4 separate regions of the Homo sapiens genome follow, and regions 1, 2 and 4 are each linked to region 3. The links come from fine-mapping of genetic effects on plasma protein levels. A gene starts in region 3. Each other region holds a variant in brackets. All regions are shown on one strand. Distances are between the middles of the regions.

What was found. PIP is the chance, under the fine-mapping model, that this variant and not a neighbour inherited with it causes the effect. Protein levels are from antibody-based Olink assays in UK Biobank. Linkage for the fine-mapping came from a reference panel and not from the study's own genotypes, which makes the PIPs less certain.
Region 1: its variant is fine-mapped to the plasma level of the BOC protein (UK Biobank, PIP 0.99).
Region 2: its variant is fine-mapped to the plasma level of the BOC protein (UK Biobank, PIP above 0.99). The variant lies in the coding sequence of BOC. If it changes the protein, the assay may bind it differently, which can mimic a change of level.
Region 4: its variant is fine-mapped to the plasma level of the BOC protein (UK Biobank, PIP above 0.99).

What each region holds. Positions count from the first base shown.
Region 1 is chr3:113,251,081-113,257,174 of GRCh38, forward strand. The region is part of intron 4 of BOC (BOC cell adhesion associated, oncogene regulated); the gene reads left to right. Among named protein-coding and RNA genes, the nearest start is that of BOC, 43 kb to the left of the region's middle. The variant G/A (reference allele first, on the strand shown) is at 162.
Region 2 is chr3:113,278,889-113,286,999 of GRCh38, forward strand. BOC (BOC cell adhesion associated, oncogene regulated) reads left to right here. Exons shown (of 20, transcript NM_001378074.1): 12 at 361-567; 13 at 936-1,117; 14 at 1,670-1,775; 15 at 2,143-2,265; 16 at 4,523-4,744; 17 at 5,447-5,679; 18 at 5,894-5,970; 19 at 6,484-6,677; 20 at 7,787-8,111. The coding sequence ends at 7,974. CFAP44 (cilia and flagella associated protein 44) reads right to left here. Exons shown (of 35, transcript NM_001164496.2): 35 at 8,042-8,111. It overlaps SPICE1-CFAP44 (SPICE1-CFAP44 readthrough (NMD candidate)), which reads right to left. Exons shown (of 52, transcript NR_183050.1): 52 at 8,042-8,111. Among named protein-coding and RNA genes, the nearest start is that of BOC, 71 kb to the left of the region's middle. The variant C/G (reference allele first, on the strand shown) is at 4,610.
Region 3 is chr3:113,203,896-113,211,997 of GRCh38, forward strand. BOC (BOC cell adhesion associated, oncogene regulated) reads left to right here and starts at 7,662. Exons shown (of 20, transcript NM_001378074.1): 1 at 7,662-8,102. LOC124909486 reads right to left here. Exons shown (of 2, transcript XM_047449436.1): 2 at 3,502-8,102. The coding sequence ends at 7,660. RefSeq lists an enhancer at 8,023-8,102.
Region 4 is chr3:113,259,336-113,267,446 of GRCh38, forward strand. The region is part of intron 4 of BOC (BOC cell adhesion associated, oncogene regulated); the gene reads left to right. LOC124909409 (a long non-coding RNA gene) reads right to left here. Exons shown (of 2, transcript XR_007096006.1): 1 at 6,757-8,111; 2 at 430-4,168. Among named protein-coding and RNA genes, the nearest start is that of BOC, 52 kb to the left of the region's middle. RefSeq lists an enhancer at 5,715-6,333. The variant G/T (reference allele first, on the strand shown) is at 4,571.

The sequences.
Region 1 (6,094 bases), 46 kb after region 3:
CAGTGCATGGCAGAACTTGACATGGCAGAACTGTTCCGTGGGCCCCAGAGCAGGGCCGTGCCGTGCCTTCCTACTTGGTCATCCTGTGGCTGTAGGTGCACTGTCCCAACTGCTCACACACCTTCCAGTCCCCTCCCTCCATTCTCACCACAGTTACAGTC[G/A]GAGCAGGGAGAGACAGGACACCAAGAGACATGGGCAGGGCCACGTGTAGTCTGGACAGAGCCCACCCAGCCCAGACTTGGCCTCCTGTCTCTCTGTGAGGGGCAAGCATAGTCCGAAGGCCTGGATTATAAATATTAGAACATAATGAAAAGGAAACTGTGTGGCAAAGGGATAAAGGGATACAGAGAAAAGAAACAAGGAAGAGATGAGGTGACAGTTTGGACCAAGGAAAATGCCAAGAGAAGACTTCACACTACCTTTTTTTTTTCTGGTTTTGCCATTCTTTTATTCATGTTGTTACACTCAGTATAGGATAGTTTATTAAAATCATTATGTCTGTAGACATTCTATTTGTGATATAGAAATTGTGTTATTTCTGACCTCTATTTTTTCCTATTATGTGACAAAGAACATAGGTCCTCAGACCAACATGTGGAAACCAAGGGCCAAATGGCTTCTAAGGTCCCTCCCAACTGAATAATTCTGGTAAATTCCATTTCCATGTGCTCACTGACGGATGGTCCTAATAACCGCTCTTATTTCTTTTATGCTTGTGAAAGTCATAGTTTTTACAAAATTACTTGAGGGTGTATTATAAAGATTCAACAGAGCAAAGTAAAGGCCAAGTGACTTGACATAGTCATAGCTGGAAGAGGAGCCTTACCAAGACAGGTGTTTCTAGTTGCCATTATACTTATTCTACCTTATGAGGACCCATTGTATGAGGCTAGATGGAAGTGAGTAAACAGACGTCCTACCTTTGCATGTGACTGCCACTTGGTGTGCTGTGTCCCAGGCGCAACACATACACTATCTGATTTTCTACTCATTGTATGTATGGGCACGTGAGACTTGATGGATTCAATACACCACTGAAGGCTGGAGAGCACCCCTGACAGCCATTCTTATATGCTGAGCCTGTGGCCAGGAAGCTTAAAGAACTGCCTCCAATTTGGCCCCTTTCCTGGCGCCTGAGGTGTAGAAAATAGGGAAACTTGTTGAGACTTTAATGGTATGTGGATTTAAACTTTGAGAAGATTTCCAGGGCTTGTTCCCTCATGACTCAGCAGCACCCCGTTATCCCTGAAAGCCCTGCTTTGGGCATCCATGTCACCATCATCATCATCATCATCACCCTTGTGGATGACGTGCTTCCAGGAGGTTGGCGGTGCTACATCATGGGGCTTACCTAAGGCAGCGAACTTTTGAAATGCCCCTCTATCCAAGAAAGCTGGGGTCCTTGGGGTGGGTGAAGCTTGAGTCCTGGGAGGAGAGTAGGGAGGGATGGAGAAGCAGTAACAGAATGGAGGAAAGCCCCTACGTGCCCTCCAGTCCCCAGATCCCTGGAGGAGCTTCACTCTGTGGGTCAGTGGAATGGAGGCTGCCAGGATTCCTCTTTTCTTGGGACAGTCAAGCAAGGCCTGCCCTTTTCTCAGAGGGAAGGCAGAGTGTGTCCTCAGCTGTCTCCCTGAGGAGCCAGGCTGACACTGGGCTGCATCTTGGAGCCCCCCTCACAGTGGAGCCACTCCTCTTTGTGGCAGAAGGGTCACCCATGGAATCTGAGTGCCTGGCCTCGGGGAGCAGCCTGTGAGTGCTCAGGGAGGGAGGCAGGCCGTGGGTGGCTAGAGGGCCCTCCCTTCCAGCTGTGCTTGTTGGGCGGGGGCTGCTATGAGGCTTGGGTGTTGAAGGTAGAGGGTGCAGAGGGGTCATCTCATCACGTCAAGAAGGGCTGAGGTCAGAACTACGTTTCCTATCATTGTACAGTTCCCACCTCCACTTTGATATTTCCACATTATAATTGCATTATAGAATGTTTAGGATATATATAAAATAATCTCTCATAAGCCTGCTATCTTCATATAACCACCACCATCATTTTGGAGTATACCCTTCCAGTCTTTATCCCTGCTCATATTTTTAAGTTGTAATGATACAACAAATATACAAGTTCTTTTCTCTCTCTTGATGTTGTATGATAAGCATTCTCCATTGGCCATATGACCATGTTAACTTTTTTATTGAGTATAAAATGCATACCAGGTCTGGCACATAGAGATCAGAGATAATTATTACAATATGGCTTACACCTGTAATCCCAGCACTTTGGGAGTCTGAAGCAGGAGGATCATTTGAGGTTGGGATTTTGAGACCAGCCTAGGAACAAAAATTTTTTTTAAAAAAATAGCCAGGCGTGGTGGCGTGCACTTGTATTGCTAGCTGTCTCGGAGGCGGGAGGACTGCTTGAGCCCAGGAGGCAAGGCTGGGGTGAGCCAGTCTCTTACAAATGAGATGTGGCTTTTTTGGAGACCCTGTCTCCAAAAAACAAATAAATAAAATGCATACAGTAAAGTACACAAAGTGTACTAATCTTAAGTGAACAACTGATAACATTTTTCATGTACATCCACCCATGTAACCATCCCCAATGTCCCCTCATGCCCCTTCCTAGTTAGTCCACCCTCCCAGCCCCCACCAGTACTTATGATCGTAATTACTAGTGGTCCTAGAACATCTACCTTCTACCCTTTTCCTGTTGCTGGACAATTAGGGCCTTTCCAGTTGTTGATTATTGCAAATGAGATGCGCCTTTTAGCAATGCGTGTGCCCTTAAAGAGCAGCACTGCTCATTCAACAGGGAGGTTTCATCTGCAAATGGGCAGCACAAGTCTGTAGAGACTCAAGACCATAACCATTCATTTGGCCTAATTAGGAGCCAGGCTGAACCTTTTATTGTTTGGGAAAGGGAGAGTTGGAGAGTGGAAGATTTATCTTGGAGCCTTCCTTCTGCTTCAAGGTGTATCTGTGTGAGGAGAGACAATTTATTAGCCTTCATTTTAAAAATATTCCTGGCTGCTTCTTCCTCTGGTGCTTGAGGGGATCTGTGGTTGGCAGAAAGGACAAAGGGAAGTGTTTGGTTGCAACCCAAGAAGGCACAGTAAGAGAAGAAGGGGCTTGTGCAGAAGCCGAGCTGGGCTTATTTGAAAGCCAAGAACTATTGGCTTGTCATTTAGACATGAATCAGAAGGCAAAATGTTTGGGCCTGACTAGAAAGAAGAAGTGCTGAAAGTTGAGAGAGCAGGCATGGGGGGCTGTGTCATGAAAAAGAGGGAGTTGGTGGAGTGGAACTGCAAAGCTTGGAGGAGGCAGCAACGAGGTGGCGGGAAGGTGGGTGGGGGCAAGTGAAAGGGGTGCTGTCTTTGGGTTAATGCCATTAGGGGATCTGGCCCAGACGCAGCAGTAGATTAAGTTTCTGAAAGCACATTCCTGAGCAGAATAGGGGCTGTGTTTTGCTGGTTGGCTGATGTATGAGGGAGGCCAAGTGGTAGACGGGATTACCGAAGGCACGGTCTGCATTTAGAGGAAAGACTGGGCAGCGGCGTGCCGGTGCACACGCATGCACACCCACACACACTCAGCATGGTAGGCTTCCTTTTCCTCTGGCCTCTTCTCCACGCTGTCCCATGTTCATCCTCGCACAAAGCAGTTGCTGTCTGGCCTACCTGGCAAGATGCCACCTCCTGCATCCACCCTTTAGAAGGGTCATGGGGCTATAGGTCATGGGGCTTAGGACCAGGCTTGAGGATTCAGGGGTGGAGGGGAGGCCTCTAGCAGAATAATTTTCTGGTCCAGTGTTGGAAGCTGGAGGGTCCACTTGTACTTCACCCTGACCAGGTGACATCATCTTTTGATTTTCGGTAAAATGGAGCCAGAGGTCAAATCAACTGAAGAGTCTCACCTGCACTCTCTCCCTCCCTCCACCCCAGGTTGTCCTGGCCATGTGGGTAATGGCTGCTGCATGCTCTGTGGAGGTGCCCATCTCGCTGTCCTCTGAAGAGTTTTTTATTTCCTATTTAACCTAAACTTTAAAAAAAAAAGAAAAACTTTCTTGCTGCCAATGCCCTGCTTCAGATCATCTTGTCTAATTCTTGGTTTTTGAAATGCTTTTAACTTTGAACTCCTTCCTTTCACTTCCCTTTCCCTTTTCACAAGCCTCACACCAGGCAGCCAACCGCTCTACACAGCTCAGCTGTTCCCAGTCTGCTCCTGAACCAACAGCAGACCCTGCCAGGGAGCACTCCACTCCTTCTTACTGGACCCTGAGTTCCACCTCAGGCCTGTTCTCAACACAGTATGGCAAGGAGTCACAACCGACTCATCAGAGCTGGCAGTGGAAAAGCTGTTCTCAATCCCTTACCTCTAACAGTCAACCATTAATAATTGTTTATTTTTAACTTTTAAGATTTTTTGATAATTTTATTCTCCCAATTCTCCCATCATCCCTAGGTCCCACTGGTAGCTGGAAATAAAACAGGTGGTAACCAGGTAGCTACCTATAATTCTAAACTTGGGAATTTTAGTCCTCAAGTTAATGTGAAGTCTTAAGCTGCAGCCGGTATAATTGAGAACAGATCGGTCACCGCTCCTTAAGGCCTCCTAGCGCCAAGGCCAGGCATATACTCCTGAATGGTCCTGTCTCTGGCATCAGAGATCAGCAGGCAAGGTGGCTGACAAGAAAGGAAGGAGTCCCCCTCGCCACTCAACCTCATGAATCTCTGACTTTGAGAAAATGTCCAAAGTGACCAGGGGCCCTTTGTTACCATAATTTAATTTAACCCATGAATAAAATGAAGGGCCAAACTGGTATAATGGAAAAAACAAGAAGCTAAAAAAAATTTTTAAATTCTGGGTTTAAGCCTTAGCTCTGCCATTTAAGTGTTCCATGACTTTGAGCAAATCACTTGGTCTTTAGACTGACTGCCACAGCTGTGAAATGAACACAGTAATTACATCACCAGTCTCATGGGTTTTTTGAGGATAAATGGGAGAATGTATAATATTAGTATTTGAGAGCATTTTAGAAATCCCAGGCTTTATTTGTTCGCCCATGTGGTTGTCAAACATTTCTGGAGTGTCTCCTTTCTGGAGGCTCTAAAGCCCGTGTCCAGCCCTGTACTGCCCAGTTCCATTCTGGGAGTGACCCTTAGGAAGACAGTCCAGAGGGTGGCAGAGCTTCCAGTCATAACCAGAACCAATAGAGGGCTGGCTTCTTATAAAGAGAGAACTAACCCATTCCTGTGACTTTCTTAGTTCCTTATATACATGTGCTCTCTAACTCAGATTCCCACCCCAGCCGCCTTCAGGAGCAGCCACGGTGTCATGGTGCATTGTCAGTGTAGCCCGCAGAGCTGCTCACTGATGCTCCTGTGGGTTCACTGCTGCCCACTCAACTGCTGCCGTATACAGACAGCTGTTGTTTTGCACTGACAGGCTGGGCTGACCCTGGCCTTCAGCATGGTGAATCTTACAAACAGAAGCTATGTCTCTTTGCTCAGCTCCCCTAACCGCTAATTCCCATCACACACTTCACTAAGGTCACCTAGGTTCTGACTGTGAACTAGAATAGTCCATAGTCCATTAAGGACCATTGTAGCGATTTCTTTCTTAAAATATTTCTAGCTTCCTTTATCTCTGTATTAGGGTTCTCCAGAGAAGCAGAACCAATAATACATATATGTGTGTGTGTGTGTATATATATATGTATAATATATTTAATTTTGTATATGTATAATTATATATTATACAAAGATTTATTTTAAAGAGTTAGCTCATGCAGGCTGTAGATTCAGGTAAGAATTGATATTGCAGTCTTAGGGTAAAAGCAGGAAACTCAGGCATATTTTCTGTGTTGTGTTCTTCTCTGGAAAACATGTCTTTGCTATTAATACCCTCAATGATCAAATGAGGCCTATCCCCACTAGGGAGGGTAATTATTTTCTCAAAGTAAAAGATTGTCTAGCAAAGTTGACACATGAAATTAACCATCACAGTCCCCTACTGTCCACCTGAAATACACCACCTGCCTGGAGTTCTTTTGGAATATGTCTCTTTGGAGACAATGTGAAGAAATTAGATTCTCCCTAAGTCCAGCTCC
Region 2 (8,111 bases), 75 kb after region 3:
TATGACATCTCCCAGTTAACCACAATGAGGAAATGTAGTTTGGAGCTTTTTAAATAAAAGGCTGGCATTGATGCTGGGATTGCTCACTGGGTGCATCCAGAGAGCAGCAGAGGCCAGAGCTGTGGTCCTTGGGCCTCCACACTCTGGCTTTGCAGAAGGATAGCATAAGGGGTCTTAGCTCAAAGCCCAGGCAGCCGTGGGGAGGTCTGATGTGAACACCAGTGGGTGGAGGGCTGTGGGGAGGAGCGGGCCCGTCAGGAGCAGGCCAGGCCCAGTGGGCATACAGCGTCATCTCACCCTGCTTCCTTCCTCACGTCATCTCACCCTGCTTCCTTCCTCACTGGATACGGTCTTTCCCAGCCCCAGAAGCTCCCGACAGGCCCACCATCTCCACGGCCTCCGAGACCTCAGTGTACGTGACCTGGATTCCCCGTGGGAATGGTGGGTTCCCAATCCAGTCCTTCCGTGTGGAGTACAAGAAGCTAAAGAAAGTGGGAGACTGGATTCTGGCCACCAGCGCCATCCCCCCATCGCGGCTGTCCGTGGAGATCACGGGCCTAGAGAAAGGTAGGGGCCTGGCCACACCGTGGCCTTGGCCTGATCCCCCAGCTGCCCCTTTCCGCCTGGAGGAGGATGACGAGCCTGGGATCCCCTTCTCTCGGCCCAGGCCCCCACCCACCAGCATGCCTCCATGTTGCTGTCTGTGGTGTTTACCACAGTCCTAAAGCCTTCTGCCTCCCTCCAGAAGAGCATCCAGAGCCATCTCCCCTGCAGCTCAGCTCTGACAGTGGCGGGTGTTCTTGTGAGGCCTTTGAGAACTTGCTTTGGGGAAGGGCTGCCCAGAAGACCCCTCCAGGTCCTGGGCCTTGAAAGGCCATGGGAGAATCAGAAGGTATTTCCCAGCTCCTGAGTTCAGTGAGTGTCCCTCTCACCAGGCACCTCCTACAAGTTTCGAGTCCGGGCTCTGAACATGCTGGGGGAGAGCGAGCCCAGCGCCCCCTCTCGGCCCTACGTGGTGTCGGGCTACAGCGGTCGCGTGTACGAGAGGCCCGTGGCAGGTCCTTATATCACCTTCACGGATGCGGTCAATGAGACCACCATCATGCTCAAGTGGATGGTAAGCGGGCCTGGCCGTGGACTGCAGTGGAAGACGGCCTCCCCTAAATGCCCTTCCCTGTGAGCCTGGGGATTAGACTCCCCCGAACAGGGCACCTGAAAGCTTCATCAGTGGAATTTGGGAGGCTCTTAGTGGCTGGAGCTGCTCTAGTGGTCTCCTGTTGATTCTGGTGCCTTGACCTGGTAGACCTCACCCTCCTTCCTGCCCTTCCCCTGACACCACAGGGGATCCCAACACAACTGTTCAGGGCCCCTTCTCAGCCACAGGGGCCCCTCACATGTCCAGGGAGATCAGAAGCAATTGAAGTCTTTGGAGAAATGGCAATTTGTTTCTTCTCTTCAAAAGCTTAGGGACCTCTAGGCTAAATAAAATAATGAGTAATCTTTACAACATTTTTCAGAGAACCTCAGGGATATCATTAGAAATCTTTGCCAGGGGTCCCAAGTGAAATTCAAACTCTGGACTGGGGTAGAACCTTCATACACCAGTGGTTTTGCTTTGATGATGTTTTCTCTGCCCATTGTCAACTTGTTTCTTCTCCATTCCCTATAGTACATCCCAGCAAGTAACAACAACACCCCAATCCATGGCTTTTATATCTATTATCGACCCACAGACAGTGACAATGATAGTGACTACAAGAAGGATATGGTGGAAGGTGAGACACAGTTCTGTGTTTATAGCTTCTGCGTGATATAGTTTCCTCCGCTGGCATGGGGGACAAGGTATTGGTGAAATCTGGTGAAGCATAAACCTGCATCTGGTGTGACACGAAGCTCTAAGCTCCGTGTCATTGACTCATTCATAATACCCTTGAAGCTGTCAACTTCATGAACCCATGTGATGATGGGACAACCTGGGTGGACACCTAGAACATTTCCTCCAGCGTTCCTCCACACGCCGCCCCTGTGCCAGTCAGTGGCATCCTCCCCCACACACTGCCCCAGCTGAGTCTGACTATGAGATTGGGATCAAGAAAACCATATACACATTGCCATGCACCATTCTCTGACTCTGTTTCCCAGGGGACAAGTACTGGCACTCCATCAGCCACCTGCAGCCAGAGACCTCCTACGACATTAAGATGCAGTGCTTCAATGAAGGAGGGGAGAGCGAGTTCAGCAACGTGATGATCTGTGAGACCAAAGGTGAAGCTCTTTGGGTTCTCTCTCCTGTCTTGGTGTTTCCAGCGAGGGAAGGCAGAGTCACCATTCCCTGTGCCTGTGCGGTGCTGGGCCTCTTTCCCAGGAAGACTCTTTGTTTTCCAAATACCCTCAGACTTGGTCATGTTTCACTCTCTACTCATTTGTCTGTGCCTAATACTAAATAGACCATGATGACACCTTCAAGGAACTTGATAATTAACTCATCCATGAAATCAGGGGATAGACCTCATTCTTAAGTTGGGAACTTCCTATAAATACTTTATTCCTGCAATGATATTTGGTGCTTACATGGGTTGGTTTATTTAACTGAACTACAATCCCATGAGATGGGAAAGGAAGTGGGCATGAGGAAGCTGTATACTGCAGCCAAGGCCATGCAGCCGGTTAGGGGTAGAGCATGCTTTGGGCCAGGATTGTCTTAACTACAAGACCAGCCCCTTTCTGTTGCACTTAAAACATGTTAAACATAGTCACATAATAACTTGTTAATATTTGCACATTGGTCAGATGGGGAGATAGCATTATCTCCGTTTTGCAGATACTGAAAGTGAGATAAAGCAGTTGTATTGCAAAGAACATAATCAGGAGAAGATCACAAAGGAATAGGAATAGAGACAGAACAACACATTTTTCTCTCATCAAGGCAATGGCATTCTCTCTCCTGCTTCACTGGCTTTCAGTTGTTCAGCAGATCCTCCCTGAGTGCCTCTGTGTCTCTCCCTGCCCTCTTCCATCATGCACACCAGAGGGAGGGCAGATACATGCACAGCCCAGAATCCTGGATCACCTGGTGCAGGGAGTGCCCAGAGGGAGGAAGAGACTTCATAAAGCCTTCACACTGGTCTTCTGGAAGGACCGAGTCTTAGGCTAGGATGAGGAGGGAGTGGCCTGGAGGACAAGGCTGGACATAGCTCCAGATGGTTGGGGTGTCAGGCACCGGGAAGGAGGTTATGGGAGTGAATGCCTAGGAAAGAGGCCACTGAGGATGGTGTGAGATGAGCCGGTGCAGCCAGGGAGAGCTGGAGCCACTGGAGGCTGTGAGGTGGAGGAGGGCTGTCAGTGGATTTGTCTGCTGAGATGGGTCACTGGTGACTGTGCAGGGAATGGGCTGAGGGTTGAGAACTGGGGCTCTAAAGTAAAGGTAAAGAGAAGGGATGGGTTTGAGTCTCTTTTCTAAGGAGGTGTGGGCGGGACCAGGGTCAGCTTGCATGCTAGGGCTGGGAGAGAGTGAAAGAAGTTAAAAATAAACTTCAAGGTTTCCAGCTGGAAGTACTGCACAGGTGATGTTGCCACTTATTGAAATGGCAACGGCAAGAAGACAGATTTCATGAGAAAGGAACAAGGTAAAACCACTTGGAGGCTTACTGAGTCTTTGACTCTTTGGAGACATTGAAATGAAGTGTCTTGATAAGGAGCAGAGCTCCTGCCCCGTGCAGGGGGTCCGGGTGGGGAGATTGGTTTGCGGCTCTTTAGGATATAGGTAGAAGTCACGGGACTAGGTGAGAATATACAGAGAGTACAGACGGGAGGAACCAGGAAGGCCTCCCAGTGTCTGTGGAGGCAGACGGCACAGAGAGGAAAGGAGAGGCATACAGAGCAGCAGAGAGGTGGGGGACATTAGGGGACAGAGTCCGAAAGCCGGGGGAGAAGATGGCCACGAGGGCCAGCAGGGTCAGATGCACCTCCTAACAGCAAAGCTAAAGTGAGGAGCTGATGGCCTTGACTCCACCTCTGAATTGGCATCTCACATGTACTGTGTGTCCTCGTGAGTCCGGGAACACCTGTCCCCCTGCTGTGATCCATGCTAATACCTAGTGCTTCACGTCTCAGTCCACCAGCAGGTAGCACGCTCTTGGGTGTCGGTAAATTCTTCCATTCCCAATTCTTTTTCTGGCTCCTGCATTTTAAATATTTTCTTCCAAAAGTTCACCAGTTCTTCCCAAAAGCACTACACCGCTTCTGCCGGAAGGACCCAGTCCAACTCTAGTGCATGGCTCACAGACATCTCGCTCTGCTTTGAAATATAAGGCTCAGGTCTCCGCCACAACACCAGATTTCACATTAGATTCCAATTTCATGCTGAGTGTGGACACCATTCAAATAAGAGATTTTGAGGCCCAATCTAGTGAGTCTGACCCCATTTCCCAAACCCATGGAATGGGGGTATTTTTTTTTCTATTTGTTGTGAAGGAAATATCAAAGAAACATATGCTGAAGTGAGTTTTGTCCACAATTACAGCTCGGAAGTCTTCTGGCCAGCCTGGTCGACTGCCACCCCCAACTCTGGCCCCACCACAGCCGCCCCTTCCTGAAACCATAGAGCGGC[C/G]GGTGGGCACTGGGGCCATGGTGGCTCGCTCCAGCGACCTGCCCTATCTGATTGTCGGGGTCGTCCTGGGCTCCATCGTTCTCATCATCGTCACCTTCATCCCCTTCTGCTTGTGGAGGGCCTGGTCTAAGCAAAGTGAGTGAGTGACGCTTTCAGTGGGAGGATCCTGGGTGGGAAATGGGGGCTCCACTAAGGAGGCCTCTGCCTAGGTCTGTGTCCATGGAAAGCTCAAGCCCAAGTCCCCCAAAGGTCTCGGAGGTCAGAGAACACCCAACGACTGGGCCCCTCCCCCAGCTCACAGACCTCGGCTTGGGGAGGAGGAAGGAGGGAAAGTTGGGCTGTCTTCTCTGCACCTTTGGAGCTCGGGACCTATGTTGTGCCATCTTCTGAAGTGTCCGAAGCTGCTCCTCTGACCTCACATTCCTACTTACAGTCCATCCTGCCTCTTCCCTGGGTGCGGAGCTGCCTTCAGCTTTCCCCTCTATCCTGGAATCTGACTTTTAGTCACTAATTTCTGCTTCAGATGGCAAAACATCTGGTCAGCTTACCTCCTCTAAATATTGTTCTTCTTTTCACTCACCGCCTCCTGCCCCCAAGCCCTGGACCCTGTATCTCCCCACCCTTCTCCCTGCAGAAGAGTCTAGGTGTCAGGTAGAAATGGGCGACACAAAGGAGACTCTAGGAGAAAATGTTCTCCATCGCTTGGGCACTGTCAACTCCCTGCCTACGTCCTTCAACCCTCTGTGGCCAGGAGCCTCCTGAGATCCTTGTGGGGCTTTTCCAACCCATCCCGGGCTACCTTGGCCTAAGCACACCTTTATTTTTCTGTCCTTCCAGAACATACAACAGACCTGGGTTTTCCTCGAAGTGCCCTTCCACCCTCCTGCCCGTATACTATGGTGCCATTGGGAGGACTCCCAGGCCACCAGGCCAGTGGACAGCCCTACCTCAGTGGCATCAGTGGACGGGCCTGTGCTAATGGGATCCACATGAATAGGGGCTGCCCCTCGGCTGCAGTGGGCTACCCGGGCATGAAGCCCCAGCAGCACTGCCCAGGCGAGCTTCAGCAGGTAGCGCATTCTTGGGTGTGGGCGGCAGGTATGGGACACCCAGGAGGGAGTGGCTGGGCTGCCTTGGGGGGCCTCCTCCCTCCTAGGGTCTCAGGCTGGGCTGCTGGGCCAGGCTTTCTTTAGTCAGGAGCAGATGCTCCTGTTGTTGAGTGAAGACTGGAAAGTTACCTGGACTCCCCGGCGTGGCCGTCTCATTACTCTTCCTTTTGAGCAGCAGAGTGACACCAGCAGCCTGCTGAGGCAGACCCATCTTGGCAATGGATATGACCCCCAAAGTCACCAGATCACGAGGTAACCAGGCCTCTCCCCTTTCACTCCCAAGCCCCACAGCCTCACTTTCCCTTTAGCTCCTCAAATCCAAGGCCTGTCACTGAGAGCCAAGCAGTAGTGCTGTACTCAGGGGTCCCCGTGACTGACAATCATGCTCCTCTGAACCATTGCCCTAATAGGCAGTTGTTGCATTTGCAATTGCGATGCCCTTTCTGCCTGAGGGCATGGCTTGGCATCTCGGAATCCTCCGTCACTAGACAGATCAGAAGCACCCACCACAACTGACTTTGCCCATGGGCCCCTGGACACCTGACTTCACATTCTCCCACATGGAGTAAAATGGAAATGGACTAGAATGATCAGTGGGAATGATGGTGTGGTACCTCTTGATGTTCAAAGGGGAGAGCAGTCCTTGCCCCATCTGAGCTCTCACCAGCTCTGATGCCCTCAGACAGGGAGACAGCCAGCAGGGGGATGGGGCGACAGGCCCACCCTGCCCAGCCCCACCTCCCCATCTGGGCTTGTGCACTGCAGGGGTCCCAAGTCTAGCCCGGACGAGGGCTCTTTCTTATACACACTGCCCGACGACTCCACTCACCAGCTGCTGCAGCCCCATCACGACTGCTGCCAACGCCAGGAGCAGCCTGCTGCTGTGGGCCAGTCAGGGGTGAGGAGAGCCCCCGACAGTCCTGTCCTGGAAGCAGTGTGGGACCCTCCATTTCACTCAGGTTGGTTCCAGGAGCAGGGCAGGGAAATTAAACAGGCTGGGGGTGACATGAGGTAGGCATCCACAAGCCAGTAGTAACAGTCTTCAAAGGTGGGGCTTGGTAAGGAGCCAGCCACAGCATTTATGTGGGAGGGATGGGGCATCGAGGGTGGCTGGCCACTTTCCTTCACTGCTGAAGGCCCAGTAGGTCTGTGGGATGTCCAAGTGGGTTCTACTGCAACATGATAAGCTGCGGTCCTCAGCCTCTGAGAAAAAGGCTATTTCTCCATTTCAGAGAAAAAAGCCCTTTTTGGTCTGTGCATTTCAAGGCCATTCACAAATTCCATTTGCTGCTCATCACACTAAGAGGCATTCTCTAATCACTCTGAAATGCCTTGCTTTGTTGAGGCTTGTCTCTTAATTAAGGAATAAGGTTGCCTCAATCATTAAGGAGCCAAATTCTTACAAACATCATCATCATAACTCTTTGTACTTCCACGGAACTTTTTCTCCAAGGAGTTTTGGGCCATTCACGCTAAGCCCATCCCATTGTCTTCCTCCATGCTAGTCTCCTTAGAAATCAGTGGATACTTGGTGAGGGCACCAAGTATCCACTAACGTTTCTTAGCTTCTCTGTGTGTGTGCCCATTCATAGGCAGATCCTGGACTCTGTCTCTAGGAGATTAAATTTAAAAGATGCTGGGTCCTAAAGCTCGACCCAGCATCATTTAAACTGGACCGTGTCAATCTGGGGGGACTGGATTGTGAGTGGGATGATTGTAACCAGAAGCCATAGCAAAGGGTGGACTAGCCGCCTAAACATAGAAAGAGCAGGGCTTCCTTCTGCGTTTCACGGGCTGCACTGACTTCATCTGCTCCTGTGGTGTGGGCTCAGTGCGGGAGTCTCTACAGTCCCAGCATGAGTGGGAAATGGGTGGCAAGTGGCCCTCCCTGTTTTGATGAGAGACCTTGGAGGGAACAGAAGTGCCCTTGTCTCGGTTGTAGGTTTCTGTCCCCTTTCCAGAGCCAGTGTAACCACCTCCACCACAGATAGAGATTGGCCCAGTGTCACTGGGTGTTGGCTCCTCGGTCAATCTGGATTTTAATGGTTCCTACTCTTTCTCCCCTCAGGGCCCCCATGCTGCTTGGGCCTTGTGCCAGTTGAAGAGGTGGACAGTCCTGACTCCTGCCAAGTGAGTGGAGGAGACTGGTGTCCCCAGCACCCCGTAGGGGCCTACGTAGGACAGGAACCTGGAATGCAGCTCTCCCCGGGGCCACTGGTGCGTGTGTCTTTTGAAACACCACCTCTCACAATTTAGGCAGAAGCTGATATCCCAGAAAGACTATATATTGTTTTTTTTTTAAAAAAAAAAAGAAGAAAAAAGAGACAGAGAAAATTGGTATTTATTTTTCTATTATAGCCATATTTATATATTTATGCACTTGTAAATAAATG
Region 3 (8,102 bases):
AAGGCAAAGAATATACAGCTGTTTTCTGATTCTCAATGAGAGAGGTGGCAGGGAGGCTTCTACAACACCACCAGCCCCAGAATCTATATTCTTGTCAATTCCTCTCCCTTCCTCATGGCTCTGCCTGCAGGTCCACAGAGAGCTTCCAACCACTGTCCAGGGAGGCCGGTCAACCTTCCCTCCATGACCAGAACTGCAGAGCAGCTTGGGCCTCCCTGTTAAATTCTGCTTGTGAGTGGAGGACTTGAAGAAGTGGGGTAAGGTGGAGTAGGGTCAGGCATAGTTAGGTTTCCTGATGCTGTGGCCAAAAGTCTCAGAGAATCGCAGGTATCTTATGAAGGAGAAAGAAAATAACACATGTAGAACAAAACAAGATGGCATAATACCTGCCTCAAAGCTTGCAGTGGCAGCTTTGGCATTAGATTCTGCCCAGCTCAGTCCCCAGAATATGGATTCCCCTCCATGGAAGCATCTCATTGCTAAAAACCCTTACAAGATGTGTGAGAAACTTCTTCCCCCTTAAATGGCTGACTGAACAAATTTAACGGAGGCTGTTATCCACTGAGTTTAGTATCAAAGCTCTGAGATCCAGTTCTCTTTGAGTTTTTGCTTTCATCTGGAATCTTGCGCCCCTGCCCTCTTTGCTGCCGTCACTGCACAATGTCAAACAGCTGGAGTCTGGGCAGCACCAGAATCCAACTGTCTCAGCCTAACAAGTGAAGGGATGGGGGAAGAACAGATGGCGGGAGATGAGGAAGGTGGGGGTGTCATGGAGGACGAAAGGGGGCTGTGCTTGCTTTAGAGAATCTGATATCTTGGAAAAGTGGTCTCACGTGGAATTCAGTGTCAATAGATTCTATTTGTCTAGGGCTTTGCAAAATCAAGCACACAGAAGTGGCCTTGGACTATTCTATTTTTCATTTCTCTAACCCAGCTTCACCTCTCACTCAAACTTTTACTAATTTTCCCTCCATTTATTGAGTGCCTACCAAGGGTTTATATATACATATATACACATATATATATGTGTATGTGTATATATATGTGTATACATATATATGTGTATATATAGAGAGAGAAATAGTACATATATATTATTTCCAATATTCACAGAAACTAGGGTTTAGGGATGTAATTAATTTGTCTAAGCTCATGCAGCTTATTTAAGACTGGATTCAAACCCAGGTTTGTCTTGATGCCACAATATTCTTTTTTTAAAAATCTCATCCTCGGCCAAGCACAATGGCTCACGCCTGTAGTCCTAGCACTTTCGGAGGACGAGGCAGGTGGACCAGTTGAGCCCAGGAGTTCGAGACCAGCCAGGCCAACTTGGAGAAACACTGTCTCTACTAAAAATACAAAAAATTAGCCGGCCTGGTAGCAGGCACCTGTAGTCCCAGCTACTCCAGAGGCTGAGGCAGGAGAATGGCGTGAACCGGGAGGCGGAGCTTGCAGTGAGCCGAGATCACACAACTGCACTCCAGCCTGGGTGACAGAGCAAGACACTGTCAAAAAAAAAAAAAAAATCAACTGGGCATGGTGGTGTGCGCCTGTAATCCCAGCTACTCAGGTGGCTGAGGCAGAGGTTGCAGTGAGCCAAGATCACACCACTGCACTCCAGCCTGGAAGACAGAGTGAGACCCTGTCTCTAAATAAATAAATAAAATATCATTCTCCCCCTGGGGTACACTTGTCCATAGGGAGCCTTGTGGGGATCTGGTGATTAATTCCTAAAAGTCAACGGAACATATAGCCAGTAGGAATGCCTGAGTTGACAGCCTGGGGCTAGAGAAGTCAGTCCCAGCCAGTTCAACTTGTATAAGGAATAGATGGCATCATACCAGGCTCACCTGTAGTTCTGCCTGAACCATGCAATTTAGGGTTTAATTATACGCTGTCTTGCATTGTTTCTACTAATTGTTGCATAGGTCAATCTTATACTTTCATTCATCATTCTTCCTTCAGTCAACAAATATTTTAGAGCAACTGGGCATATTTCTTCTCCAGCAGCCCTTGCAATACCCAGCATAGAACGGTAAGCCAACTCAGATAACTAGTTAATGGTCCAGTCAAGAGCAAATGAGGGCTAATTTTCCTAATTATAAATTAATGGATTATGTTATGCATCTTGAAATTGTACTGAGATATTGCCTTAATAAATAGACACTTTATACACTCAACAGCTTGAATTTTAAAGCAGAAAGTTGGGTTCATGAATATCTCATTTCCAGTATCATTTATCAAGATAAAATGTCTTTATCCAAATATAAGCTTTTGAGAATAGTTATGTGTACAAAAGCCAATTTACTAATATTGTTAAAACTGTGAATTTTGGTATCTCGTTTATTTGTTTTTTTTTTGTTTTTGAGATGGAGTCTCGCTCTATTGCCCAGGCTGGAGTGCAGTGGCACGATCTCAACCCACTGCAACCTCCCGCCTCCCGGGTTCAAGCGACTCTTCTGCCTCAGCCTCCTGAGTAGCAGGGATTATAGGCATGCGCCACCACGCCTGGCTAATTTTTGCATTTTTAGTAGAGATGGGGTTTCACCATGTTGGTCAGGCTGGTCTCAAAACTCCTGACCTCGTGATCCGCCCCCCTCAGCCTCCCAAAGTGCTGGGGTTACAGGCGTGAGTCACCGCACCTGGCCGGTATGTCATTTTTAATCTTAACCCATACATCAGAACTCCATTCTCTTCCTGTATATAATATCCTTAGACTCTTACATTAGTTACAATTAGTAAGTTACCTTAGTTCTTGGAATGCACTTGAATGTCTCTTTCGAAAAAAGAAAAACACTCCTTGGAAAGCCCATAAAATACTTCTTAATGGCTAGACAAAATTTGGGCATTTTCTAAACAGTTTTTTTTTACTGCAAGAAGTAGCCTGCAATTCATGAAATAGTTGTGAAGTAGTGTGTTTCACTGGAAAAATCTTGGGTTTGGAATTCTTACCACCATTTAGTTGTTGGGGATCTCAGGCATGTTATTTAATTTTCCTTATCTATAAAATGGAGATAATTGCACCTATATAGCACAAGGTCATTATGGGGATTCAAGATGGAAGGTACACACAGAATCCAGGAGAGAAACTGGGAGAGGAAGGTGCTCAATAAACATTAGCTTATTTCTCAGAGGCTTGTTGAAAAGGTTAAATAAAATCATAAATATGATGCAGTTCATAGGGTAAGCAATTAGTGCCCAGCTCTTCCCATTGGAGTGTTGTTTCCACTAAAGTGAATATTTGGCAGTTGTTTTCTTTATTGTTCAGTGTAATCATTCAGACTAGATAATTCAATCAAGTCTTCACTTGGGACCTTGTGTTTGATGATCTCATTGTTGTTTTTAATTAAAATAATCTGAGAGATGGAAATGTACATTGGAACCACTGGAGGACAATTTTGTAATACCAACTAAAAGCATTTAAAATGTTATATCCTATCCATTGATCCCAAACTCCTACTTACATGAATTTACCCTTAGGAAATAATCAGAACAAAAAGATTTATAGCTAGATGTTTAGTCAACTGCAATACAGGATGATAATAAAAATGGAAACGATCTAAATATGTAACAATAGAAGAATGGTTGAATAAATAACAATCTCTCTCTTTGATGGGATAGTACACAGCAGTTAAGTCAAATTTTGAAGATTACATATGGGGAAAATAATCATTAAAATGTTAAATTTAAAAGCATGATAACCTGTATGTACAATGAACCCAAATTTGTAAAATATGAAAGTACCAGATAAATCAATGAAGAAGCTGGCTCCTGCCTGAATTACCAGATGCATTAAAAATTGTATAAAATATTGAATAAACTCACCCCAATTATGTTTCCCTTTAAATGTCTTTCAATTCTGATTCAATTAGAATCATATACTCAGTGTCGATAACGTGTTTATTTGTATTGATGAGAAACAAAAACAAGAAAGAAAAATGACTAGAAAAAACACTCCACTATGTTAATAACAATGTTATCCCTGGGTAGTAACTTTAAGTTGATTTTCTTCTTTTATGTGTTTTTCTACATTTTCTAAATTTTTGTCAGTGCACATATTTTATAATCAGGAAAGCAGATTTATATTAAAACAGAGGAAAACATCATCAAGTCCTTCTTTCTTGTCTACATCTTAATAATTTTCTCAGCATAATCCTCTCCAGATATCTTTCACAGTCAAAGAGATCCCTGTTTATATGATACAGGTAGAGTATCTACAGCACACTGAGAGGAAACCACGTCTTTTCATGTCATTCACTGAATTCCTTCCAGTTTATTCTGCACAGCCTAGCAACATAGTGACTTATATAGACCTACAATCCCTACTCACCTCCCCACTCCTTCCCCCGACCAAGCATTTAAATTAATGTGATGATCACTTCCATACCAAATGCTTCCTTCTTGGTGGAGGCCCATAACATTTCCAAGAAAGCAAGGTGCTAGAGGTAAATCACCATCAACAGAACGGACAGTAGCAAAAAGCACCTTACAAGATCCAGACTCCACCTAACTGTTTTGAAATGGCTAGAGATGCTGGAATGGGTTGGGGTGGGTTAAGATAGAGAAACTAATTGAAAGGGGAGGAGGGAATTAGGCAAGAAATACCCTCCAGGCAAAATGGAGTGGGGAGAAAATTCAGATACGTTGTTCTTACAGGACTAGTAGTAATAAACACAATCACATTAATACAAAGAGCAATAAAAACAATAAACATATCTGAGGTACCAACAGTGTGCTTGATGCCGCCAGCAGAATTAAGTCCTCTTTATTAAGCTGTGATCTGCATTCTGCCTAAACTATAAGAAAGGTGAGCAGCAGGCCGGGAGCAGTGGCTCATGCCTGTAACCCCAGCACTTTGGGAGGCTGAGGCGGGCTGATCACCTGAGGTCAGGAGTTCGAGACCAGCCTGTCCAACATGGTGAAACCCCGTCTCTACTTAAAAAAAAAAAATTAGCCTGGCGTGGTGGCAGGCACCTGTAATCCCAGCTACACGGGAGGCTGAGGCAGGGAGAATCGCTTGAATCGGGGAGGTGGAGGTTGCAGTGAGCTGAGATCATGCCACCGCACTCCAGCCTGGGTGAGAGAGCCAGACTCCATCTTAAAAAAAAAAGGAAAGAAAGAAAGGTGAGCAGCCTGCATGCATGAAGGAACAAGGCAGTGTGTCATTCTCCTGACTAAATGGTGCTGGTAGGGACTGTTACATTCTTTGTGTTCTGTTGTGTTCTGATGCTTAACTCAGAGCCTAGGGCTGTGTGGACCCAAAGACCAGAGTAAGAGAATGGAGAGTCCTAGGAGAAAGATGACAGAAGGGGTAGAAGATATCTTTGAGATGTCAAGCAACGAATAGTATATACAGGAATATAAAAGAATGAATCTGAGACCTTCATGCATCACGTTCTCATTGAGCGGTACTTGGAATCATCTTTGAAAAACAGAAGGCTGGATACGCTGCTTGGGTCCCTGGGGAGAAGGAGTGTTATCACTGCAGAGGAAGCTGGTTGACCCATTCCCTTGGGGGAATTAAAAGTTCTGTACCCAGGGTGGACCCCAGGCCTTGTAGTCCAGAATTGTGCCTTGGAAGGAGGACAAAAGAAAGTGGAAGCTAATATAGTCAATGACTGGAAAGAAAAATAGGTCTTTGAGAATGTTGGGGGAGATTGTTAGAGATTAAAAGGGAAGGAAAATTAGGATGATTAAGTAGGAAAAGGAAATGTAGGTGGATAATGCACAGAGAGAGTTCAGAGTCCTTTTCACCTTCTTGCTGAAAATGCATCATCCTCCAGATCCATTTTGCCAGAGGAACATGCCTAAGAATCCAGGCACAGAGCTGAAAGTACTCGATAAATCAAAAAGGAAATTGGCTTCTGCCTGAATGACTAAATACCGGAGAAAAAATAGTGCAAAATATGGAATAAAATACATTTATGTTTCCTTTGTAAAGGTCTTTTGGTTCAGATTCAATTAGAGTCCTATACTCAGTGTAAAGTATGTATGTTTACTGACAAGAAACAAGTTAATAAAAAACAAAACAGGGCCGGGTGAGGTGGCTCACGCCTGTAATTTTAGCACTTTGGGAGGCCAAGGTGGGCAGATCACTTGAGGCTAGGTGTTCAAGACCAGCCTGGACAACATGGTGAAACTCCGTCTCTACTAAAAATACAAAAATTAGCCGCGCATGGTGGCAGGTGCTTGTAATCCCAGCTGCTTGGGAGGCTGACACTGGAGAATCTCTCGAATTCAGGAGGCAGACTTTGCAGTGAGCCGAGATTGCACCACTACACTCTAGCCTGGGCGACAGAGTGAGACTCTGTCAAAAAACAAACAAACAAACAAACACACACACACACACACACACACACACACACACACACACACACACACACAAAACCCCCAGAGGCCCAGAAAAGTTAAGTGACTTTCCAAAGTCACAGTGGCTTCCTGACTCCCAGTGCAGCTGTCCAGCCACACAGGGAAGGCAGCACCCCCATTCACCCTACTACTAGCCTGGCTGTCTTATTTCCAGGACAGCTTCCTCACCAGCTTGGCACAAACTCCCAGTTCACTTTAAACAAATGGCTTAGCCCTGCTGGGACTTGGTTTTCTCAGCTGCAATGAAGATACGGAATGGATGACCGCTCACAACCTGTGCTTCATTCCTAAAAAATAAGAAGGGAATCCAATTTGCCACCAACTCAACATTTGCCTTCTCACTGCCCTGGAAAGGTAGTTTTTAAAACGTGGCCCCTGACCTGCAGCATCAGCATCACCTGGGAACCTATTTGAAATGCAAATTCCCAGGTCCACCTACTGAATCAGAAACTCTGGAGGTGGGGCCCAGCAAAGGGATTTAGCAAGCCTTCCAGGGAGTCCTGCTGCAGATCAAGTTTGAGAACCACAGCTCTGAAAGTTTTCTGACCAACACACACGCGCGCGTGCGCGTACACATACACACGCATAGGTAACTAACTTTTCCGTGGCCACTAGCACCCCCAACCCATGCCCCCAACCCCAGCCCCAGCTCTCCCTCCCCATTCCTCCCTGGCTCCATCCTGGGATGATGAATGGAGGTCAGGGCGCTGTCAATGGACGACGCGGCAAACCCTCCCCAACCGACCGAGGGGGTCGGGGGAGGCTGCGTTAAGGCTTCCCTGAGATTGGTTTCCTTATCATTTTCTCCACCGCCGCTGTCCCATTTTCTGATGAGTTTGCTTTTAATGATTTATCCAACAGTTTGTCTTGCAGAAGAAGAAGACCATTGAGAGGTGGGTGTCAGGAAAGTCTTGGAAGAGACTAGGCGAAAGGAGGGAAGGATTGTACATGGAAGAGCAAGGGTGCGAGGTGAAGCTAAAGAGAAAGTGAAGGCTTCAGGGGAGCCCCCTGGGTTCGGGGAAAAGGGAGAAGATGGTGCTTTTGGTATGGGAAAGCAAAAGAAGTTGGAGGAGAGCGCGGGTCTGAGGCACAGCAAAAAGTGGGTGTTAACGGGAAAACTGCCCTAGAGTTTGGGGGACTTTTTCCAGCTTCCTTTCCAAGACTTTTTCTTTGCTCCATTTTGCTCCTCCCCCTCCTCCCAGCCTCCTCCACTCCCTCCTCCTCCTCCTCCTCGCACGGTAATGGGAGGCTCCTAGGCAGGAGAAGCAAAAGAAGGAATTGTTTGCGAGTTCAGTCATCCAAAAAGCTTCTTCCATATGGAGGGACCGGGTGCGCTGGGCGCGGCGTCCCCTGCGTTGTCCTCCTGCTGCCGCCCCCGCGGCCGCCGCTTTCTGCCGCGGGGACCCTGAGCCCCGGCCCGCCGGTGTCAGCCGCCGCGCGCGCGCACAGACACACACACAGAGACACACAAACACACACAGAAAAGACACACACGCGCACACACGGCGCGCACACCCTCACGCCCGCCACAGCCACAACACGCCCGCACGCGCCCTCCCTCTCCGGCCCGCAACTTCTCGGTCCTCGGCTCCTTTGTTGCTCCAGCCGCGGCCGCTCGCCCGTGTTGTGTGTCCCCGGTGTCACCGAGCGTGTTGTGTGTCCGTGCGGCGCGGCGCTGTGTGGCTCCCTCGCGCCCACCACGCTGGCCCCCGGGCCCCGGCTCGCCCTTCCCA
Region 4 (8,111 bases), 55 kb after region 3:
GGAAGGGCTGTGTAGTATGTTGATTCAGTGAGCCAAAACACAGTTTGAGGAGCCTTTTGCACCAGAAGCCAAGGGAAAGATTGATTTGCCGGCTTGAAATCACTGGACTCCTTTAAGGAGCATGGTGCAAGATGCTTTCTTTAGAACAAAAAAGAAAACCAAGAGAGCAAATGAGTCCTTGGTTCCCTCATTTTTTAAAAACAGCTTCACACCTCAGCATCCCCTGTTTCTCGTGTGTGTGTGGAAAAGTTGAGCAATTTCTACTTTGACTTTGTTTTTAGACTTTCAGCCATTTTTGGAGTCTGGTAATAATCTTGAGCTCTATAGAACAGTGAGTCTGTCCTGCAAATAGACGTAGTGTTCACATCCAAATTAAAGGATGATCACTTCATAATGAGAAAAAATGTAAACAAAAGGAAAAAAACTTGCTGAAGTAGAAACAGCATTTATTTTCCTATAGGGAGAATTGTGATTAATAGTGAGGTGCTTACAGCCTTTCCCTCAGGCCCACTTTCCATCGCGCACTTTCTCCTAGCTTTCAGAATGGTGGTCCCTCAGCTGGCAGCATCTTCCTCTCCATCTCCGTCCTCAGAAAGTTCCCACCTCTGTTGGGTTACTAATTCCTTCTCAGTTTTCAAGACTCAGGTATCTTCTCTAGGAATGTTTCTTGACCCCTTCAACTTCCAAGTCTAGAGTAGGTTCTCTTCCCGGCTTCCTTAGTACCTTGGGTTTGCTTCCACAGCCCTTTCTTGCCTCTCTATCTGGAGGGTAGGAACTGTTATTATGCATCTGTGTCCACAGTGCTGTCCACGGGGCCTGGCACACCATAGGCCTTCTGTGAATGTCATGAAAGAGGAAGACTCCCAGATAAAACATGTTTGAGGTCTAGAAGATGAAAAAGGGCATACACAGGGTAAATTAACAATTTCTGAATTTCCTTTTCAAATTCTGATATATTTAAAGTTTTCAAGAAGTATATAAGAAAGGATAAAGCAGGGACTCAGGATACAAAGAGGTTGAAGATACAAATGGATTCAAGAAAGACTTAGAAAAATTGATGAATGTCAGAAGCATAAAACAACATTGGAAAGAAACTGAGATGTTTGGAGGAAATTCTGGAACCTCAGGGAGATGCCAGTGAATTTGGCTCCATGACCTAACACAGGGGTCCCCAACCCCCAGGCAGCAGACCAGTACCGTTCCATGGTGGTGCATGGCCTGTTAGGAACAGGGTCACACAGCAGGAGGTGAGCGGTGGACCAGCAAGCATTACCATCTGAACACCACCTCCTGTCAGATCAGCAGTGGCATTAGATTCTATTAGAATAGAATAGAACAGAACAGAACAGAACAGAACAGAACAGAACAGAACAGAACAGAACAGAAAGAACAGAACAGAACAGAACAGAACAGAACAGGTTTTCACCATTCAATAGAATAGGGTTCACCATTAGAGGGTGAACCCTACTGTGAACTGTGCATGCGAGGGATTTAGGAGGTTGTGCGCCCCTTATGAGAATCTAACTAATGTCTATTGATTTGAGGTGGAACAGTTTTATCCCAAAACCATCCCCCCCAGTCTCCCCACCCATGGTCCATGGAAAAATTGTCTTCCATGAAACCCGTCCCTGATGCCAAAAAGGTTGGGGACCACTGTCCTCACATATACCTCAAGGGGCATTTTGGAGTGGGTGGATGGGATTGGTGCCACCGAGGCTGATGGGAGTATGCAGTTTCCAGGTGTGTGGGAAGAAAAAGCAGGCCCCACTGCCCCGTCTCTCCCACCTGGAGTTCTGTTCATCACAGCCACACCAAAGTGCTCATCCCCATTCTTTCTCTCAGCTCCTCAGCCTCCGCTTTCTCTCCTCCCTCTCTTCTTGCACAGGCTGCCAGCCCTTCCAAAGCCTGTGCCAGGATCCAGCTCTGGCTCTGATGAGTCCAGACCACCAGGACTCACATTAATTTTCCCACTGCTAAGTTTATAGTTTGTATTTGGTTGATCAGAGAAATATGTGTGATGTGGGTTGCTGGCAAGTAAATCTTTTTTTCCTTCTGCTCTTTCTTCAGTATATTTTTTTTCTAACTATTTCATTCCTTCATCTAGTCCAAAAGAAACTCCCCAGTTCTGCTAACCAGCCCTACCTCAGAGCGGCCCTGAAGTCGGGTAGATGAGATGGTCTACAGACCAGACATCTGTGTTCATCTGGCTGCCAGACCCAGTGGAGACATGGCTCCATCCTTGACTTGTCTTTGAGGATTAATCGCATTTCTCGTTCTCTTATGTCTTTTTTAAAAATGAAGTATTTTTAATTGGTTCAAGCCAAGAAATTCCTGAAGCCTCAGGCCAATTCATTGCAAATCATTTAATGACATTGCAAAATAGGTTCTTTTTAGTCTCTCTCCTTCTTCCTCTCCCACTCCTCCCTTCTGGCCTGCTTTCCCCTCCTGCCCACCCCCAGATTTCTCTCTCCTGTCTTGACTTTGATTTTCAGCCCTCATCCCCCAGTCTCTTTCATCTCTTCCCCAATCCCAGCTTTCTTCCACTGCTCAAATCTGGGTGTAAATCCCACCTCAACTGAAAGGAAAAGAAAGAAACAAGATTTAACAACTAATGTGCTTGGCATCTACAAAGGTTTGTTTTTTTTTTTAATTCTTCTTCTTCCTCCCCATGGAAACTGTTTTCTTTAAATAAAAAAGAGCATGCCTTGCTTTCATCAGAAAGTGTGTTTGAGAAATTTCATGTCATGTTTCCATGGTTGTCAGGAGAGAGCTTGGGAGCCAAAATTATTTGTGCAATTGGACAGGCAGAAAAAAATCCCAAAGACAGCAAACATATTTATCCAGTCTCCCTGCCTGCAAAGGGAGGAGCAGTACTCACTCTGCCAACTGTGTTTCTAAGTGTCTCTGTAGATTACAGTGTTGACTTAGGCTGGAGTGCTGGTGGAGGTGGTGAGGACTACGCTGGAGAACACCACGCTTGTGAATTATTGTGTCCTGCCTTGTCTATGTGATTGAAAGCTCCCTGTGGTTAGGAGCTATGTCTTTTCTTCTTTGTATTTTCTGCAGTGCTTGGCATAATAGACAATTCTGCAGCACCTGGCTTGCTAAATGAATGACTCAATGATGACCAGAGGGATGGTATTTTACCAAATGCTGGTTTTGTCCCGCTTTGTGGGCTGCAGGGGGTCTATGTGCCAGGGCTAAAATACTTAGTCACTACCCCAAATGCATGGCTTCTGAGATGCCTGCCCAGCCCACAGTAAACCCCAACCACTCACCAGGTGCCAGGCTTTCTGACCTCATGAGAGCACAATGAGGCTCCAGCCTTCTGTTTCTGTAGTTGTCCCACATCCTCAGCAGAAAACTGCCATGGCGTTTCACTTGCAGATCATTTTATTTCAGAGGAATAACCTTGGGGTCATGCCAAGCTATGGTCCCTCAAGTGACTTGGGGGTTGAGAATTGTGTTGGGACTTTTTGTCCATCAATGAAGCAGTTTGGGACACAGGAGAGCCCCCATATTGTCCAGGGGCAACATAGTGAGGAGTGTCAGGGACCCTTTGTCTTCTCAGACTCTACAGCCAAGTCTGTCTGATAGCCATGAGCCAGAAGCTCAACCAGAGAAAACTCTTAGTGACTTTACTTCTCCTGCACCTCGGGTGTCTCTCAAAAAGGGACTGAGGTGCAGGGAAGGACCAAAGGATCAGCATGCCACTGAGTAGTGCTCCAGTAGAGCAGAATCCTTTGTGCCTTGTAGCATTAGCCACAGATGCAGCAAGCTGCCACAGGGACAAGTTGAGGCTTGGAGGTTGTGACAGTTGGGGAATAGAATTATCCATCAGTCCAGAAACCTGCCAGTGGCCCTGAGGCTGCTAAGTCATCCTGGCAGCATTGCCACATGAGCCCCATGCGGTGCCCCGTGACCTAATGGATCCCATCCAGACCTCTGTAGAGGAATGCAGGCTTGTCCTGTGATCCCCAGGAACAGGCAGGAGGGTAGGACAGGACTGTGCATGAGAAGTACCTGCAGGGGTAAAAGGCCAAAGTTTCTTTAAGCATTCAGCAGAGCTCATGGATATGGGGATATTGGTAACTCCATGAAGCATCCAGCGGATGGTGGCGTCTTACTTCTCTTCTTACTTCAAACAGAATCGAACTTCAATTTGCAGCTTAAAGGAGAATGCAGGAGAAGATTGAATGAATAACTCCCTTGGAAGTGATTGATAGGTTTATGGATTACACCTGGGGCATTTAACTGAGACCCAACACATCCTGTAGTTGGACACGTAAAGTCCATGAAAATTGGGGGATAAGCTTACAATTAATATTTGACAATTTGTGTTATGAGAATGCATGAACATACACCAAATACTGTAATTTAATTCATAGCTCTGCCAAGCCTTTTATTAATAAAGGAAAGATAGAGACTAGAAGGTGGTGAGAAAGAAATTCAAGAGACATTCAAGATAAAATGTGCCAATTTGCGGTTTCACATGTGATCTGCTGATGGCAGCCACATCTATGTACCTTTGACAGTCTAATTTGCTTTCTGTTTTTCCCATAGCCAAAAG[G/T]GTCTGTGCCTGATGTGCCCTTTGAATGTGAAGAGAACACAGAGTACATCACATGATGTGTGTCTGAACACATCCCTGTAGCCTCTGTGTTCAGACAGCCTACAGAAGTGATGTATCAGAGTGTACGTATTCCCTTTGGAAACTGAGCTCCCAGAAGGAAGGAACTGGGCCGGGTTCTATATGGAGCCTAAAATATCATGGGCTTTCTCAGAAATCACAAAGCTCTGTGACAAGTAAATAAGGTCAGTAAACTCAGAGATGGCCCCAAAGACCAGGACTTCTGACCTGTTGGGAGCTGAGAAACAAAAGTGGGTCTACTAGCGTTTGATTAATGCGGACAAGTTAATGAAGTAGCTGGAAAATGCACAAAGAGAGGATGCAAAAGAAGGGTGCGAGGGGAGGGAAGGTAAGAGGATTAAAGCTGCAAAAACATTCCTCTAATGGATTTCTCAAACACACCAGCCAACAGGCAAGGGCAGGTGTCCTGTCAAACCATTTCCCCATGAAACCTGATCCATCTTTCTGCAGCGGAGGCCTGCTAACCCTATTTGTAATTGAAGGGCCTGTCCCTTATTTCCAGTGAAGCACACTGAGCAGCCTAGGGACTCGGCCAGGAAACCAGCTTTGCAGACAAAGGGGCCTGGGAACAGGCTGGTTTCCTTCATATGCGCCAGCTAGAGCTCCTCTCTGCATCTGCCCCATCTGATGGCTGGTTAGGCTCTTATTGATCATGAACTCCCCACCCCTCCCTGGCCCCCTTCCTGTCCAAAAACACTAGAGAAAGGGGTCCTCTGATTTTCAGATCATTCATCACTTCATTATTCTGCCTTTGATCCCTTAGTGAAACTCAAGTTTTACTCAAGCAGCCAAATTGGGAGTGTTTAAGCTAAGGCTTAAGCTTAGGAGGCACGGGGGGAGGGGGGATAGAGGGTAGGAGGGACAGGGCCAAGGACCGAACTGCTGCTTATTTGTTTTGAAGCCAGGAAGGCTCGCCTGCCAGTCGCCCCTTGTGGGGAGCTGGATGTCCAGCTGGGGTGCCCTCGGTCCTGCCTGCACAGGCTGTTGTGCACATGTTGGCATCAGAACAGAGGGGCTGTCTGGCCGCATGGCTGACCAGTGCCCAGCTTCATGCTCCCCCACTGCACAGCCTTCTGTCTCCAACTGAGCAGCTGTCAGAGGGTGCAGCAGGAGCCAAGAGGGGATTAAAAGAGACAGTGTTTTCTACCACTGGGTTGCTGAGGTGGGTGCCTGGCAGAGTGCATGCTCCCTCCGTGCCTGGATAAGCCCTCAATTACAATGGGCAGGAGCCTGGGGCCATGAAGATGGAGATGGCATCCTGGTGCCAAACTCCTTTCAGTTCCTTACATCTTTCTTGCAAAATGATCTGCTAGCTTTAAGTATATTCTTTGCTTAAGGCAAATTTCCTTGGAATGAGGTGAAGAAAAGGAGGAGGAAAAAAAAAAAAGAAACCTCTTGGTGGAGTAGTTTGGGACTTATTCGACCATGGAGGAGAGTGCTTCACAGCGCCTGAGGAATTTTCCAGATGCCCCTGAGCTCACAATCACTCACAGCTCACAATCATTCACAGCTCGCTTTGTGGGGAGCCTCCTGACTTGGCAGGTACAGGGCGCACTGGCCTGAAGGAGGATTAAGGCCTTTGCATTTTTTAAGTGAATTGCTTTCAGAAAACAAAGTTACCGATGTTTAGCTAGAACATGTTGAGCTCAAGCAATTCCTTTCCCATAGTCCAAACCTTCCTCTTCTCTGAGAGAAAACTCATTAGCTATCTTGGCTGAGAGGCTCAGCCAGGACTGGGCTAAATAATTTGTGGGACCAAATGCAAAATGAAAATGTAGGGTCCCTTGTTGAAGCATTATTAAGAATTTTCAGATGATGAAAGCAGAGCATTAAACTGGGTGTTACCCCATCAAGTGCAGAGGCAGGTTGCACACCCATCAAGCTGGCCTTGGGCTCAGCCTTCCAAACTGTATTTATTTAGCAAGGATTTAGAAAGCATTTGCTGTATCCTCAGTACTATGCAATAGAACTTGGGGTTGGGGTGAAGAGTGAAAAATTAATAGGCTTCTCACCAGGAATTTATCGTTTAGTTAGGCTCAGATATCACACACAAAACATTAAATAATTTTGAAATCATTATTTAAAAGCCCAGGAGGCCCTACACTTACCCACAGGAAGGAATCTATGAGAGATCTCGCCTTGACCCGCAGGCATCATGCTTGTTCAGCCTGGAAAGTGAAATGGGGCAATAGAAAGGAATCAGACAGCCAATCTCTGTTTTTTGTTAAGTTTTGTGTGTGTGTGTGGGTACATAGTATGTGTGTATATTTATCAGGTACATGAGATGTTTTGATACAGGCATGCAGTGTGAAATAAGCACATCATGGAGAATGGAATATCCATCCTGTCACTGTTTTTAACACATCACTCCTTGAATAGCATGTATTTCTTACAGCACATTTATTAGACCCATTTCACTTCTTTCTTCAGATCCCACATAACGTCTCAAGAAACATTGTATTTGCAAAATAGCTTCCATTGGCCACACTTAGATATAATGTTCACAGAACATTTGTTATGCTAGGCTCTTGTCTGTTTGTTCAAAATGTAGACCAACTTCAACTATGAATTTATGAGTTCAACTATGAGTTTCTAGGCAGCATAATGGGCATCTTGTACCTAACTCGTGGGGCTCAGCTTCCAAGATATTCATTCGTTCATTCATTAACATTCATTCATTTATTCATTCAACACTTGCCAAGTGTGTACTTGGGCCAGGACCTGGGTTAGGTTCAGGGGACACAGACAGGAACAAAACTCGGTCCACGCCCCTAAAGAGTTCATAGTCTAATATTGTAATCAAAGGGACATCAATCCTTTCACAGAAACAACAGGGCTTCCTCCCCTGTGTTGGCTTGAATTGACTAAGAGTTGCTGGGAAGTTCCATTACGTGGGAAGCCTCCTGACCTCACTGAGTACCTTAATCACCAGGCACTCCTAGGGTGACACCAGTTTGTTTTTGGTCATTATCTCTTGTCTTCTGTGAGAAACCTGATTCCAGCCCTCTCTGGGTCTCCACTGGAAACAACAGCAGAGGCAGGTGCAGTCTTGCAGTGAAATTGCAGTCAGTCCCAATGCTGTCAGTCCCGGGAGCTGAGCAGAATTTGGTGTGGCCAGTATTCGGAGAAGGTGCCTTCAGGGCTTTCTGAGTACCTTTAAGAAGAGAGTGTCTGGGTAAAATATTTCCATCTGTCTTATACTCCATTAGTTTTATTTCTCCTCTTAAATTCAGCTATAATCCTGAAAACCAGATTTCCAGCTTGGAATGCATGCAGTTTTGTTGTGCAAGTGGTCCCTGTTTTACTCAGCAACATGAGTGATTTGTCTCATACAAAGAGAGATTTGTTGTTTGGACTCTTGCATTGTTTGGGAAACATTCTGCTTTTATTCTAGATGAATCTCCATGCTCTCCCAGTTTAGATCCCATGGTGCCAAGCCAGGAGAGATGGCTATGGGGCTGCC